3 separate regions of the Homo sapiens genome follow, and all the other regions are linked to region 3. The links come from fine-mapping of genetic effects on gene expression. A gene starts in region 3. Each other region holds a variant in brackets. All regions are shown on one strand. Distances are between the middles of the regions.

Evidence for each region.
Region 1: its variant is fine-mapped to the expression of TCP11L2 in fibroblasts (GTEx, PIP 0.98).
Region 2: its variant is fine-mapped to the expression of TCP11L2 in whole blood (TOPMed, PIP 0.97).

Annotation. Positions count from the first base shown.
Region 1 is chr12:106,343,014-106,348,119 of GRCh38, forward strand. TCP11L2 (t-complex 11 like 2) reads left to right here. Exons shown (of 10, transcript NM_152772.3): 10 at 3,273-3,990. The coding sequence ends at 3,517. Among named protein-coding and RNA genes, the nearest start is that of POLR3B, 12 kb to the right of the region's middle. The variant C/T (reference allele first, on the strand shown) is at 2,935.
Region 2 is chr12:106,534,047-106,539,152 of GRCh38, forward strand. All of the region lies in intron 1 of LOC100287944 (a long non-coding RNA gene), which reads right to left. Among named protein-coding and RNA genes, the nearest start is that of RFX4, 46 kb to the right of the region's middle. RefSeq lists an enhancer at 1,597-2,096. The variant G/T (reference allele first, on the strand shown) is at 3,049.
Region 3 is chr12:106,299,778-106,304,883 of GRCh38, forward strand. It overlaps TCP11L2 (t-complex 11 like 2), which reads left to right and starts at 2,956. Exons shown (of 10, transcript NM_152772.3): 1 at 2,956-3,164. RefSeq lists a silencer at 2,594-2,713 and enhancers at 2,734-3,619, 2,794-2,873, 2,884-3,023.

The sequences.
Region 1 (5,106 bases), 43 kb after region 3:
AAAGCATTTTTAATCTCATTCAAAGTACTGTTGCCCTAGCAACTTAAGTGACTCACTTGAACGTCTCTTCTTCGACTCTGGAAGCCAAGGACACGCCTTTGGCAGGGACTCCGTGTGGCTGCTCCTAACTTTACAAACACTCCGGTCACTTTAGCCTTTGCCTAAAAACAGACTCATCTGCAAAAGAGGCAAAAGAGGCAGAACCACTTGCTGACATAATAAGGATTTTGAAAGGGTTTCATTTTTAAACCTTCTTATGGGAAAGCGTTTGGATCATATCTGTGATGATATAGACCTGGGCCTCTGAAGGTCAGGCAACTAGTCTAAAGGGAAAGTAGTACACAGTTAACTCTAAATGTATGCCTGCAGAGGAGTTAGAATAAATTAAACAGAGAGATTCCTGGAACCTGAGAAGGGCTTGATCAGTGTTGGCCATGGTTTTCCTCTGCTAAGGGTACCCACAGTATGCTTTCTTTTGTTCTCAGTTGATGCGCTATTTATTTACTGAAGGGATCATAATCCCCAATTCCCATTACAATTCTTAACCTTTTGAAAAGATATTAGAAAGGGATTTTTCTGTCGAATACATACTAAGTAAAAATTATGGATTACCTGCTGTGTAAATTATTTGCATGCCTACGTCTACTTTTTTTTTTTTTGAGATGGAGTCTTGCTCTGTCGCCCAGTCTGGAGTGCAGTGGTGTGATCTTGGCTCACTGCAACCTCTGCCTCCTGGGTTCAAGAAGAATACTTCTGCCCCAGCCTCCCTAGTAGCTGGGACTACAGGTGCGGACCACCAAGCCCAGCTATTTTTTTTGTATTCTTAGTAGAGACGGGGTTCCACCATATTGGCCAGGCTGGTCTCAAACTCCTGACCTCGTGATCCGCCCACCTTGGCCTCCCAAAGTGCTGGGATTACAGGCCTAAGCCACTGTGCCTGGCCTGCCATCTACACTTTTAACAAGTAATTTCAGTTGCACAGGTGATACAATAATTTCTCCTTGTAGAAAAATTACAGACAAAGGCCAGGCACGGTGGCTCATGCCTGTCATCCCAGCACTTTGGGAGGCCAAAGCAGGAGGATGGCTTGAGGCCAGGAGTTTGAGACTCTCCTGGGCAACAGATGGAGACCCTGTCTATATATAAAAAAAGAAAAAAAATACAGATAAGGCTTAAGTCACCTTTGTTTGCCTTCTTCAGTCCCCATTTTCCCCTGGCTGCCACGGTTTTCAGTTCGTTATTTATCTTTATAGACTCTTTTCAGTCCATTCTCACTTAAGTTCAGTCAGCATTTACAATGTGTCTGTCACATGACAGACCAAGAATATAAAGATAAAAAAGATATAAACCTCACGCTCAGAGAGTCCACTGTCCAAGAAGGGAGAGAGACACCTTCTCAACTGGCAATCATATGTCACGATAGTCTGGTAACAGATGCTAAGGAAAGTCACAGAAAGGAGGTAACTTTTGGCACGACATTGAAGGATGCCTCTGATTCTGGGCAGAGATGAGATGAAATGAGATGAGATTGAAGGGCATTCTAGTAAAAGGAAAGAATTCTAAGACATAGACATTGGAAACAAGTTCTAGGTCAGACCTAGCTGGAATGTATGATTTTTGTGAGCATTCTTTGGTGATAAGAATTTTAGTAGTATCATAGTTGTCTATATTCAATGTGGCATATTTTCCTTAGTAAACCTTCTTATTGGTGAGGTTTCTGTTCCCAAAGCCAGAGAAAGCCCTTGGAGCAGCCTGAGCTATAGCAGGTCTTTTCTGTCCAGTATTATTAATAGTTGTCCTATACTATTGCAGCCTGATTTCCATATGCATTTCTATGCTTTTGTGTAGTCGTCTCAAAGTCAAATACATTGAGGCAGTGATGCAGGAAGGGCAGGGAAGGTGGCACAATGGTGTGCTGGTTGGGATGTCCCTTCCTCAGTGTCTCCTGATTCTTGGCCATGTGTGAAGTACCCTGTAACTTATTTAGTATTAATTAATTATGTTTGAGATGGAGTCTCCCTCTGTTGCCCAGGCTGGAGTGTGGTGGCATGATCACAGCTCACTGAAGCCTCATGAGCTCAGGCAGTCCTCTCAACTCAGCCTCCTAAGTAGCTGGGACTACAGGCACACACCATCATGCCTGGCTAATTTTTAAATTTTTTTTGTAGAGATGAAGTTTCACTATATTGCCCAGGCTGGTCTCGAACTCCTAGGCTCAATCAGTCTCCCACCTCGGCCTCCCAAAGTGCTGGGATTACAGGTGTGAGCCACTACGCCTGGCACCATGTAATTTATTGTTCAACCAGGGTACTTTTGAGAGTCTCTTTTTAAAATTATGCCAGGACAACAGGTGTAAATTTTGACTGTCCTGGGGAAACCTAGATGTGTGGTCCCCCTTGCCATGTGGTAATTTGGGCCCCCAAGTTTGCCAGATCTCTAGATTTTTCAAGAGAAAGCAGAAATATGGATTTCTATGTGAAATCTCCTGATTTTAAATGGCTTCTGTTTTTAAAAAAGACACTGCATGGGCCAGACTGGCAATGCCAGTTTACAAACTCAGCTTTAGTGTATGTAATTATAATCATGAACATTTAGGATTAACTTTTGTAGAAGATTCCCCCCAAATAGGGCTCTGCCTTTTTTTTTTTATCAGTCAGCTATTGCTGCATAACAAAATACCACAAAACTCCTGAGCTTAAAAAAAATAAGCATTTATTATTACTCACCAGTCTGTGAGGCGACCGGGTGGCTCTTTTGGTCTTGCTGAACTCACTAATGTATTTGTGGTTCAGCTGTGACTCAGGATGGAAGCTTTGCTGATCCTGGCTGGACTTTCTCAGGTGTTTGAATGCTGGTTGGCTATGGGTTGGTCTAGGATGGCCTCAGATGGAACAGCTGGGTTTCCCTCTCCTTGGTCTCTCATCCTCCAGCAAG[C/T]CCAGGCCTATTCTCATGGCGGTAGTAGGTAGACGGTGGACATGAACAAGAGTGGCCTCTTGAGGCCAAGGCATGAAACTGGTACTCTGGCATTTCCACCGCATTCTGTATTGGCCAAAGTAAGTCACAGGGCCAGCCCAGATGGAAAGGATGGGAAAAACACACTCCAGCTTTGATAGGAGGAACTGCAAAGCTACCTTGGAAAGGGGATGGGTGCAGGGAGGGGTAAAGAATTGGGAACATTATTGCAGTCAACCTACTACAATTACTTGTTCTTGTTTTTAAAAATTATGTACTTTAATAATGGACAGATAAAAGTATCTTTTTTTCCCCTTCAGATAAACGAATTAAGCTTTACATGAGAAGGCTACTTTGTCTTCCAAGCCCTCAAAAATGCATGCCTCCTATGCCAGGAGGCCTAGCTGTCATTCAGCAGGAGCTAGAAGCCCTAGGCTCTCAATATGCAAACATTGTGAATCTCAACAAACAAGTGTATGGACCATTTTATGCAAATATACTTCGAAAGCTGCTCTTCAATGAGGAAGCCATGGGGAAGGTAGATGCTTCACCTCCTACTAACTAAAGAAGAACTGACATTGGACGAGAGATTGGAAATCCAGTACTTTGGTATCCAGTCCACTTCCATTGATGGCATTAGAGATCCAGCACATTCTCAGTACTGTGGTGCAGTATTAGCCCAAATCTGTGTAATGGGTAATATTAGCATTACAGAAGACACACACATCACATAGACCCTCAGAAGACGTAAACATCACATAGACCCTATTTGTGCATCATTTTCAAGTTTAAAACAAATATTTGTAATGAACAGAAAACAATTTGTAATTAATTATATTACCTATATAATACTTGTAAATGTTTTCTTAACCATTTATATTTGGCTTATGACATTTAACCCCTAAGGAGTTGTTTTTCTCACTTGTTATTATCAAACCTAATGGTTTTTAATTTTGGTACAACTCCTTAAAGGGTTGAAGGTTGTGACAATAACTGAGGGAACTGATGTTCTGAATAAATGATGTGAAGTAAACACAATTGTATTTGAAATGTACAATTACATTTTATTAATGTGTTAATAGAAACTTTCAAAGTAAGTCCTCAAATTCCACAAATGTACCAAATCACACTTTATAATACCAATGGTCAGTATTTATTTAGAATTTTAATGTATTAAGTACATTTTCATGCTATATACAAACTTCAGATAAAACCTCCCTTGTTTGTTTAGTGAAAATAGAAGCAACTCCCTTCTCAAATTATTCTAGAAGTTTGTTTCTTCTTACAATTTAGTCTGCTCTCCAAGAAAAACAATTTTTGCACAAATCTCTTAGTGAATGTCCTTGCAGTTCTCAGGCCATTGATAAGGTTTATATAAGAGTTTAATATTTTTATGTGAGGCAGGGCTCATTTGGTTTACTTGTAAGAAGAAGAAAGGGAGTCAATGATAAAATGAGATCCCATTCTCCATGAAGTTCATATCTGAAAAAGAAACAGTTAAACTTTGGATTTCTTACCCATATAACTTAACTACCAGATGTCTTTTGTGCTGATGAAAGCTTTACCGTGTTATGACCAAGATGCCCTCCTAAGGATCATTATCATTTGCCTTTTTTTTTTTTTTTTTTTTTTTTTGAGACGCAGTCTCACTCTGTCGCCCAGGCTGGAGTGCAGTGGCGTGATCTCAGCTCACTGCAACCTCTGCCTCCTGGGTTCAAGCAATTCTCCTGCCTCAGCCTCCTGAGTAGCTGGGACTACAGGCGCCCGCCACCACGCCCAGCTAATTTTTGTATTTTTAGTAGAGACAGGGTTTCATCATGTTGGCCAGGCTTGTCTTGAACTCCTGACCTCGTGATCCACCCACCACGGACTCCTCAAGTGCTGGGATTACAGGCGTGAGCCACCATGCCCGGCCTCATTTGCCATTCTTTTTTTTTTTTTTTTTCTTTGAGATGGAGTCTCACTCTATTGCCCAGGCTGGAGTGCTGTGGCACAATCTCGGCTCACTGCAACCTCTGCCTCCCGGATTCAAGTGATTCTCCTGCCTCAGCCTTCCGAGTAGCTGGGATTACAGGCATGCACCACCATGCCCAGCTAATTTTTGTATTTTTACTAGAGACAGGGTTTCACCACATTGGTGAGGCTGGTCTCAAA
Region 2 (5,106 bases), 230 kb after region 3:
TTCCTTCATATATGATGCTTAATTTCACTGGATACAAAATTCTTGGCTGATAATCGTTTTGTTTGAGGAGGCTGAAGATAGAGCCCAATCTTTTCTAGCTCGTAGGGTTTCTGCTGAGAAATCTGCTGTTAATCTGATAGATTTTCCTTTATAGGTTACCTGGTGCTTCTGTCTGACAGCTCTTAAGATTCTTTCCTTTGTCTTAACTTTGGATAACCTGATGACAATGTGCCTAGGTGATGATCTTTTTGTGATGAATTTCCCGGGTGTTCTTTGTGCTTCTTGTATTCGGATGTCTAGGTCTCTAACAAGGCTTTGGAAATTTTCCTTGATTACTCTCCCAAATATGTTTTCCAAGCTTTTAGAATTCTCTTCTTCCTTAGGAACATAGATTATTCTTAGGTTTGGTCATTTAACATAATCCCAGACTTCTTAGAGTCTTTGTTCATATTTTCTTATTCTTTTTTCTTTGTCTTTGTTGGATTGGGTTAATTCGAAGATGTTGTATTCAAGCTCTGAATTTCTTTCTTCTACTTGTTCAGTTCTATTGCTGAGACTTTCCAGAGCATTTTGCATTCCTATGTGTCCAATATTTCCTGAAATTTTAATTATTTTTTCTTTAAGCTATATATTTCCTTGATTATTTCTCCCTTCACTTCTTGTATCATTTTTTTGGATTTCCTTGCATTGGGCTTCACCTTTCTCTGGTGCCTCCCTGATTAGCCTAATAACTACCCTCCTGAATTCTTTTTCAGGTAAATCAGGGATTTCTTCTTGGTTTGGATCCATTGCTGGTGAACTAGTGTGATTTTTTGGGGAGTGCTAAAGAGTACTGTTGGGTCATATTACCAGAGTTGGTTTTCTGGTTCCTTCTCATTTGGGTAGGCTCTGTTTGAGGGAAGGTCTAGGGTTGAAGGCTGTTGTTCAGATTCTTTTGTCCTACAGGGTGTTCCCTTGATGTAGTACTCTCCCCCTTTTCCTGTGGATGTGGCTTCCTGTGAGCCAAACTGCAGTGATTATTGTCTCTCTTCTGGGTTTAGCCACCCAGCAATTCTAACCAATTCTGGGCTGGTACTGGGGGTTGTCTGCACAGACTTCTGTGATGACAACTATCTATGGGTCTCTCAGCTGTGGTTACCAGTGCCTGTTCTGGTGGAGGTGGCAGGGGGGTGCAATGGACTCTGTAAGGGTTCTTAGCTTTGGTGGTTTAATGCTCTGTTTTTGTGCTGCTTGGCATCCTGCTGGGAGGTGGCACTTTCCAGAGAATCAGCTGTGGTAGTATGGGGAGGAACCAGCAGAGGGTAGGGCCCTAGAACCCCCAAGATTATATGCCCTTTGTCTTCAGCTACCAGGGTGGGTAGGGAAGGACCATCAGGTGGTGGCAGGGTTAGGTGCTATGGCTGCTATGGGGGATGGGGGTGAGGTGCCCAGGTCAATGGAGTTGTGCACCTAGGAGGATTATGGCTGCCTCTGCTGAGTCATGCAGGTTATCAGGGAAGTGGGGGAAAGCCAGCAGTCACAGCCCTCACCCAGCTCCCATGCAAACTGAAGGGCCGGTCTCACTTCCACCATGCCCCTCTAACAGCCCTGAATCTGTTTCCAGGTGGTGGGCGAGCCGGGCTTGAGAACTTGCCCCAGGCTACCCACCTCCCAGCTGTGAAAGAAAGGGGCTTGGTTCTTCCCCCACCTGTGGAGTCTGCACACCGGATTCATACCCTCCCCCAAGTTCTAGCCAGGAGGCTTCTCACCCAGTTCAAATTGCTACAAAGTTAGCTGGAGATTTCCTTCTCCCTGTAGTGTTTCCCCTTGCACTCCACTCCTCTGGCTGCTGCCTTCCTGACGGATCCCTGTGGTGCCAGGCAAGAATGGCCTGCTTGGGGATCCAGCAAGCTCCCAGGGCCTTTCTGCTGCTTCCTGTACCCCTGTATTTCACTCAGCTCTCTAAATTGACTCAGCTCCAGGTACAGTTGGAAACTTCTCCTGCAAACAGACCTTCAGTTTCTCCAGTGGGGGTGTGTGTTCGGGAGAGGAGGCTCTCCCTTTCCCACTTCTGCAGTTGGGGCACTCACGGTATTTGTGGTGTCTCCCTGGTCCTGCAGGAGCAGTCCGCTTTTTTCAGAGGGTCTGTGGGTCCTCTCGGGATTGCTGGTTTGTTCTTGCAGTTGATCTGGAGCTAAAATTCATGATGCAAGCCTCAGCACGCTGCTCTGTCCGTCCGAGTCAGAGCTGCAATCTCTACTCTGTTATAAGGTATGTTCATTACCATGAAGTTATATAGTGAAGGTGAACTAGTTAAAACTGGCCAAAAGATCTGAACAGACATCTCAGCAAATAAGACATACAGGTGGCAAATAAGCATATGAAAAGATGCTTGACATCATTTGCCAATAGGAAATTAAAAATTAACAGTGAGATGCCACTACACATCTATAGAATGAAAAAAGTCCAAAAAACTGACAATACAAATTGCTGATGATGATGCAAAGCAAGAGGAGCTCTCATGCATTGCTGTGGTAATGCAAAATGGTATAGCCACTTTGAAAAACAGTTTTGCAGTTTCTTACAAAACTAAACATAGTTTTACCATATAATTCAGCAATCATGCTGCTAGGTATTTGCCTGATTTGAAAACATGCACACACAAAAATTCTACATGCGAATGTTTATAGCAGCTGTATTTGTGATTGCCAAAAAATGGAAGCAACCAAGATGTCCTTCAATAGGTGAATAGACATTCAAACTAAGATGCTTTCATGCAATGGAATATTATTCAACAATAAAAAGAAATGATGTATCAAGCCATAAAAAGACATAGATGAAACTTAATTATATATTGCTAAGTGAAAGAGTCTAGAAAAGGCAACAATTTTTGGTAAAAATGAAGTGGTAAAAACATCAGTGGTTGCTGGGGTTTGGAGACAAGTTGAAAAAGTGAAGCACGGGAGGTTTTTCCTCCATCCCAGGTGGAGAAATTTATTCCATATAATACTGTAGTGGAAAATACATACTATGCATTTGTTTAAAACCCATAGGACTTTGTAGCCCAAA[G/T]AATAAACCTTAATGGATGTAAAGTTTTAAAAAAAACAATTGGGAGGTTGAGGGATCCCAAGATGGAATGTAGAATACGACAAAAAAAACAAAAAAACAAAAAAAAAAACCTACCTGTATTACAAATGTATAATGCAGCGTCATTAAAGGAGGTAGGGAAAGGTGCTGACCTAAGTAGCTTTGGAAGTGAATCAAGTTTGTAAGGCTAAAGGCACAAGAAACTGTATATAAGCATTTATCCTAGTTCAGTCCTTCCCAACTCCTGGTCTGCAGACCGGTACTGGTCTGTGGCCTGTTAGGAACCGTGCCACACAGCAGGAGGTGAGCGGTGGGTGAACGTCACTGCCTGAGCTCCACCTCCTGTCAGATCAGTGGGAGCATTAGATTCTTGTAGGAGAGAATTTCATAGATTCTCATATTGTGAAGTGTACATGTGAGGGATCTAGGTTGCATGCTCCTTATGAGAATCTAATGATAAATGTAATGCTCTTGAATCATCCTGAAACCAGCCCCCTACTCCCATCTATGGAAAAATTGTCTTCCACACAACTGATCCCTGGTGCCAAAAAGGTTGGGGACCACTGATCTAGTTGATACAGTTTTCCCCAGGGAGTTGTGGGTTAACAATTCTGATACCGCTACACACTGTGGTTGAGCGATTAAGTGAATGATGGCATATGGTGGCAATCATATGGCATATGGTTTCTTGCTGTTGGAGTGGCAGAGGCAAGAGCAAGCCTAGAGGACCCTGAGGAGGCATGACTACTACATGTAATGTGTTACCTTGACTGGGATTCTGGAACAGAAAAAGGTCATTAGGAAAATATTAAAGAAATCTGGATAAAGAATTGACTTCAGTTAATAATAAATGTATCAATGTTGGCTCATTAATAAGTGTACCATACTGATGTTAGATATTAATAATAAGGGGGACTGGGTATTAGGTATATATGAACTTTGTATGATCTTTGTAATTGTATTGTAAATTTAAGCTGTTCTAGAATAAAAGGTTTATCTTTAAAAATTACAGGAAGTGAATAATTTAAACTGAAATTTAATCATGTATGGCAGTAAAATAATAAATGAAACAATTTTGAATGTTAAAATTAAAAAACCACAATGAAGTATCAATATAACCATTAGAATAACTAAAATGTTTTAATATGACAATTACAATTGATGGTGTTGGTGATGATATAGGGACATTGGAACTCTCATACATTGCTGATGGGAGTGTAAAAGGGAGTGTAAAAATCCATCTTTGGAAAGCTGTTTGATGGTTTCCTATAAAGTTATATATGCAATTACCATATGACCCAGCAATTTCACTTCAAGGTGTTTATCCAAAAGATATGAAAGCATATGTACACACAAAGATTTGTACCAAAATATTCATATGAGTTTTACTCGTAATAGCCCAAAACTGGTAGCCACCCAATAGATAAAAATGGCTAAACAAGTTGTGGTATATTTATAAAAAGGAATACTACTTAGAATTAAAAAATGAACAAACCTACATATATATGCAACAAACTAGATCAATATAATAAAAGCATTATACTGAGAGACCAGGCGTAAAAGAGTAAGTATTATGTGATTCAATTTTTATGAAACTTTAGGAAAGACATGTCTAATCTATAGTGATAAAAAGCAGATCAGTGGTGGTGTGAGGCTGGGAGCAGGGGCAATTGATTGAGAAGGGGCAAAAAGGAACTTTTTAGGATAATGAAAATATTTTTATTATGGTAGTGATTATACAGATGTATATCTTTATCAAGATTCATTCATCTATACAGTTAAAATGTGTGCATTTTCTTGTGTATAAATTGTTCCCTAGTGAGGTTGACTTTTAAAGAGGATTAGAGAAAAAATGACATTATTTTATAATGTGAGTTCAAAGGAGTTTTTAAACCTGTAATTCAAATAATTAGATGTAAAAGGACATTTAAGGGTATAAAGCTGTATAAAGCCATATAAAGGATATTTAAAGGTATGAAGAGAAATACTAGAACAGCTAAAAATCATTATAAAATTAAATGTTAGTGATAGAAGGAAGAG
Region 3 (5,106 bases):
AAATTTGCATTACATTAAATCAGTACAATATGCAACTCCACTAGAAAAGTTATAAGGCTGAGAGGTTGCAAATCCAACTGTAATTACATTTTTAGATTTTTGTCAATGATTTATTATAATTTAAAACTCAGATTTCAGATGTGTAAAAAGAAAATGAGTATTTCTATTTCTTCATCGAACAAAAATTTTGATCTGCCCTTAGTCTTTTGCCAAGAGTGATAGACCACATTTAGTCTACCGTGTAATTTACAGGGAGAAAAAAAAACTGTATTACTGTGAGTTCTCTAAGTGGTTCAAAAAGGTAAGTTAGAAAAACTAGGTGTAATAATATGTCTTCTTCAAATAAAATGCTAATTATTTTACTTCTAAAGAGGTTGCCTTTTCAGATTTTGTTGTTTTTTTTTTTTCCTCAGAAAGCCATAAACATAACCTGAGCAGGGAAGATTTTGTGTTATGACTGTCTGAGCCCTCTGAGCAACAATGTGATACAAGGCTCATTTTTGAGGGAACTGCCTTATATTTTACAGCACTCCATTTTTTCAAAGTGTTGTTTTTGTTTTGTTTTGTTTTGAGATGGAGTCTCGCTCTGTCGCCCAGGCCGGAGTAAAGTGGCGTGATCTCGGCTCACTGCAACCTCCACCTCCCAGGTTCAAGCGATTCTCCTGCCTCAGCTTCCAGAGTAGCTGGGATTACAGGTGCGTGCCACCACGCCCAGCTAATTTTTTTGTATTTTTAGTAGAGACGGGGTTTCACCGTGTTAGCCAGGATGGTCTCGATCTCCTGACCTTGTGATCCACCTGCCTCGGCCTCCCAAAGTGCTTGGATTACAGGCATGAGCCACCGTGCCTGGCCCAAAGTGCTTTTATACACAAGTCAGGCCAAGGGCAGTTGGTCAGGTAATTCACAGAAGGGTTTTCAGATAGCAAGTTATTTAACATTAAAGTAACAGAAGATAGTATTTCCAGCATCTTTTCTTATCTCAGCTTGGTTCTCTGATGTTACAGTTGAACTTGCTTTGACAAAAGCTGCTTTCCTGGTGGCTTTGAGAGCTACATATCTGAACTTTAAAAGAAGTGTCATGCCTAGGATCAGGCAGCTGGTCACTCCAGTATAAAGGACAACTACCCTGACTCATGGTCACCTGCTCCAACTTATGTCATAGCTCAAAACAATACTTAAATCCTTACAAAGCTAACAAAGGAAGTAATGTTGCCATGTGTCATTGTCACAGAATTACCAGAAGTTTGGGGGATTTGGGTGTTCATCTTTCTATTGTGGAGTTTTTAGGGTGGTGATGGCAGTTGTGTGGTGGTTGTCATTTGGCAGGAATTGAAATTGGAGGCTTCTGTCATTCTGATTACTTATCCAACGAATGACACAAATAAGAGCATGTTTGTAGGGAAGAACTCAGGTGGGGACAGCACCTTCTATTTAATCTCTTAACCTGTATTATTAGGTTGTATATTTTAGGAGAAGAGAGGAAAGTGGCAAAAGGAGGCACAGATACAAATTTATACAGATCACCAGCTAAGTTTGGCCACAGTGGTTTGCCAAAGAATTTCAATAACTAATACTTAGAGTGCTTACTGTGCACCCTGCTAAGCACTTCACATGCTTTATTTCACTTTATCCTCAAAATAACCCAAGGAAATAGCTATCATTGTTATCCCCAGAGACCAAGATCTCATGGATAGTGAATGTCAGAGCCAGGACTGGAACCATAGAGGAGTCTGTGTTGTAACCACTGAACAACTGACTTTCTACCCTGCTTTAAAATGTTGCCTGTTGTTTGTTGTTGTTGTTTTTGAACGGTGGTGGCCAATCTGCCTCCACAATCCAGACATAATTTCGGCACTAAACAGAAATACTTTAGTCTATACAAACTTCATGTAAGTAGTTCCTGCATGAAACTATTTCCCAAGTAATACAGCACCGATTTACACCTGGCAGAAGGCATAGTTTTGATGTGAACAGTTGGGGGAAGCTTGTTTCTCTACACCCTCAAGCACGCCCACAGCAGGAGCTGAGCAGCAGGCCAGACGGCACAGAGCCCTCCTGGGACTGGTTATTTACATTAACCAAGGTGGAAACTTCTCCCGGAGATAGGTGCTGCCAAGAACCCTAGAGGAAGTAAGACGCTTTATCTTTTGCACGCACGCCAAGTCTTCAGAGGGCCTGGATGGGTGTGACTCCAAGGAGCTAATCGTCCCGTGCAGGTGCAAATCTAGACCCGTGTTTATGTGGAGGTGTAGACGCAACTGGAGATGACCCGGTTAGTGGCTGACGTGCGTGGGAAAGCCCACCAGCAGCGTTGTTGGTTGGGTTGTCTCTGTAAGTGTGGACAGTGTGTTGGTGGGCACCCAGTTCCGATTGCCCCGTCTAGACAGGGGTGTGCGGGCACTCAATGTTCCACGCGCGGCCGGGAGCTCGCAGTGTGGTCCACGCCAGTGCGCCTGGAAGCCCAGGGGATCTGTCCGGCACTCCACTGGAGGCTTGGCCCGCGGCTTCGCCCACCTCCCCAGAGCCCCGCTCAGCCCCCGCTCCCCCCGCTCAGCCCCCGCTCAGCCCCCGCTCAGCCCCCGCTCAGCCCCCGCTCAGCCCCCGCTCAGCCCCCGCTCAGCCCCCGCTCAGCCCCCGCTCCCCCACTCGGCCCCGCCCCCAGTGCCCTGGCAGGCCCCGCCCCCAACGCCGGGCGCTCCCGTCGGCTCGGCGGCCTCAGTTCCGTAAACACTTCTCACCCCGCCCCCGGCAGCCCGGACCGCACCACTCGCCGCGCGGGGGAACCGTGCCCTCTCGCATCCGAAACACCCTCCCATCCGAGCTGTTCTCGGCCTCTCTGGTTCAAACTGACGAAGACTGTTTCTCTAATAGGTTCAGTCTGTGAGCGCTCGGCTTTCGGAGACTGAAGGGCCCTGGATCCCCTTGCCCCGTCGCGCCGTCGTCCCCCCGCTATCCGGTTTTGTGATGGCCGCGCCGTGGCTGCCTCCCTAGAGTCCCTCAGGGCCCTTTAAATACCGCGTTGGGGGGGACACTGGGGCTGGGGGGGTTTGTTGGGCTGGTGAGTTTTCGAGGTGACTGTGCTGTGCTCGGTGAGGGGACGCCCAGAGAGCCCTGACCCGGGGTCACTCCGTCGCCGTTCTCCTCTTGTCTACGTGCTGGACCCGGTGCGTATCCATCACGGGGGAGGCGTTGCCGGCTCGGAGGTGACCGGCCAGGTCCAACGGAGGGGACACCGCTGCAGCCCGAAGGCTCCCCTGCCCTATCTCGGAACTCCATCCTGGGAAGGCGGGGTCAGGGGCCATCAAGCTCGGCTCCTAGTTCATGTCTTCCCACTCCGCGTCCCCTTGTTTGACCTCGAACTGCCGTCCCGCGTGGGAGCGGGGAGCGGGGCACCGAGTGGCCGCCCCGCGTGTCGGGGTGGACACGGACTTCGGGCCTCGGAGGCCGCTTCGCCGCTGTTTAAATCCTGCTGGACAGGTACCAGCGGCATCCCGCCATCAGGGGCCCAGGGCACCCCCTTCCCCCACACTCCTCGGCCGGGCTGGAGTAGGGAACTGAGCCAGGGTAGAGGCAGGGCGGGCCCGGCAGCGTGTGTTTGGGATTTGTTGCCGTGGTTTCCCCGGCACTCAGCTCTGCCTCCGCCGTCCCCTCCCCCAAGGGTTTGTTTTGACAGGAAACCTGGTGCTGCTGGAGGGGAGGGGCGGCCAGAGGACGTGGGTGAGGTCGTGCAGACTGCTGCTGCGTCCCCTTGCCGGGACCTTTGGTTAAGGGGAAGAGGTGGAGAAAAGCCGATTGGGCCTGGGCTCGAACGCTGAACCCTCAGGTGTTGCTTGTGCTTCCCAAAGCTGCTACTGTAGGTGGCACCACTGGGGGTAATAGCAATGATTTGAGGTGGCATATGGATGAACATAGTTACTTGTTTTCGTTACTATTAAGAAAATCTGTTCCATTAAGTAAGCAGTTTCACAATGATAGAGTTTCCTTTTAAAATAAATATATTTAAATGCAAAAATCTAGTCAAGATAGAGACGCGGTTACTAAATTATAGTAAAGGTAAGGAGGGAGACGTAGAAATAGTCATGAAGAGTGGCACTCAAACGACTTAAGTTTGGGAAATCTTAGATGGTTGTCCTGCTACCTTAACTGTGAAGAAACTGGACAAGTTGTCCTTGTCCCCAGTGGGTGTCTCAGCACCCATGGTCACCAGCCCAGTCAGGGACTTTGCTCTTCTTACCTGCCAACGGATAATGAGTTAATCTCAGTGGTTCCCACTTGAGGAGGCTCCCTGCCGTGGTCCTTTTCCTCTCTTCTCTAGGGATTTCATGCATCACCCTGACAGCCAGTGGAAGTTGCCTGATTTGAAGAGGCCCAGGGCCGAAGATACCCAGTCATGTGTGGAAGCAGCTTCAATGCCATTTTGTGAGAGGTTGAGGGCCCCAGAGGGGGAAGCACAGGTATTAAAACAAAACAGACCAGCAAGTGTGGGAGGAGTGCTTTCAAATGTGAAAAGTGCCAGGAATCCTTCTCCCTGATGCTGTAATGCCACGTGTAACGTGAACATCTGCTTTGTGGACAGTGACTGGCTTGTTGGCTTTTATCTAGCTCTTTGTTGGTTCTAACTTGATGAAGACCAGTATTGTCTAGATGAATGGTATGGGCCCCTATCCCTCTGCTCTATGGTTTTTGCTTTGCTGTGGATGAATAACTTTAGTGCTGCTATTTAAGACTGATTCTAAAGCAGCATTTTGCAGAAGATGGAAATTTTTCACATCATCTGCAATTTTTTTCTTTAGAGCCCAGACTTAGTCCTCTGACTCCCTTCCCTTTACTACACATATGTGAAGGCTTGTCCTTGCAGCTGACCTCGATCTAGTGTTGAAGGATGGTACACACTAGAAGTTTCTTGAAATTTCTTTTTTGCGTGAGCTAACCTTAACTGGATGGGTTCAATTCCTCAAGGCCCTGCTGGGTAATCTGAATATTTCACTCCAAAATGTTTATGACTGTAAGCAGTTAACCTTTTTGCTAATACGTGGGGTCTAACTAGGGATTTTGCGGTGCATAAAGAATGGCTCCCTCCTAGAGGATTTTCTGTCACTGTAGCGG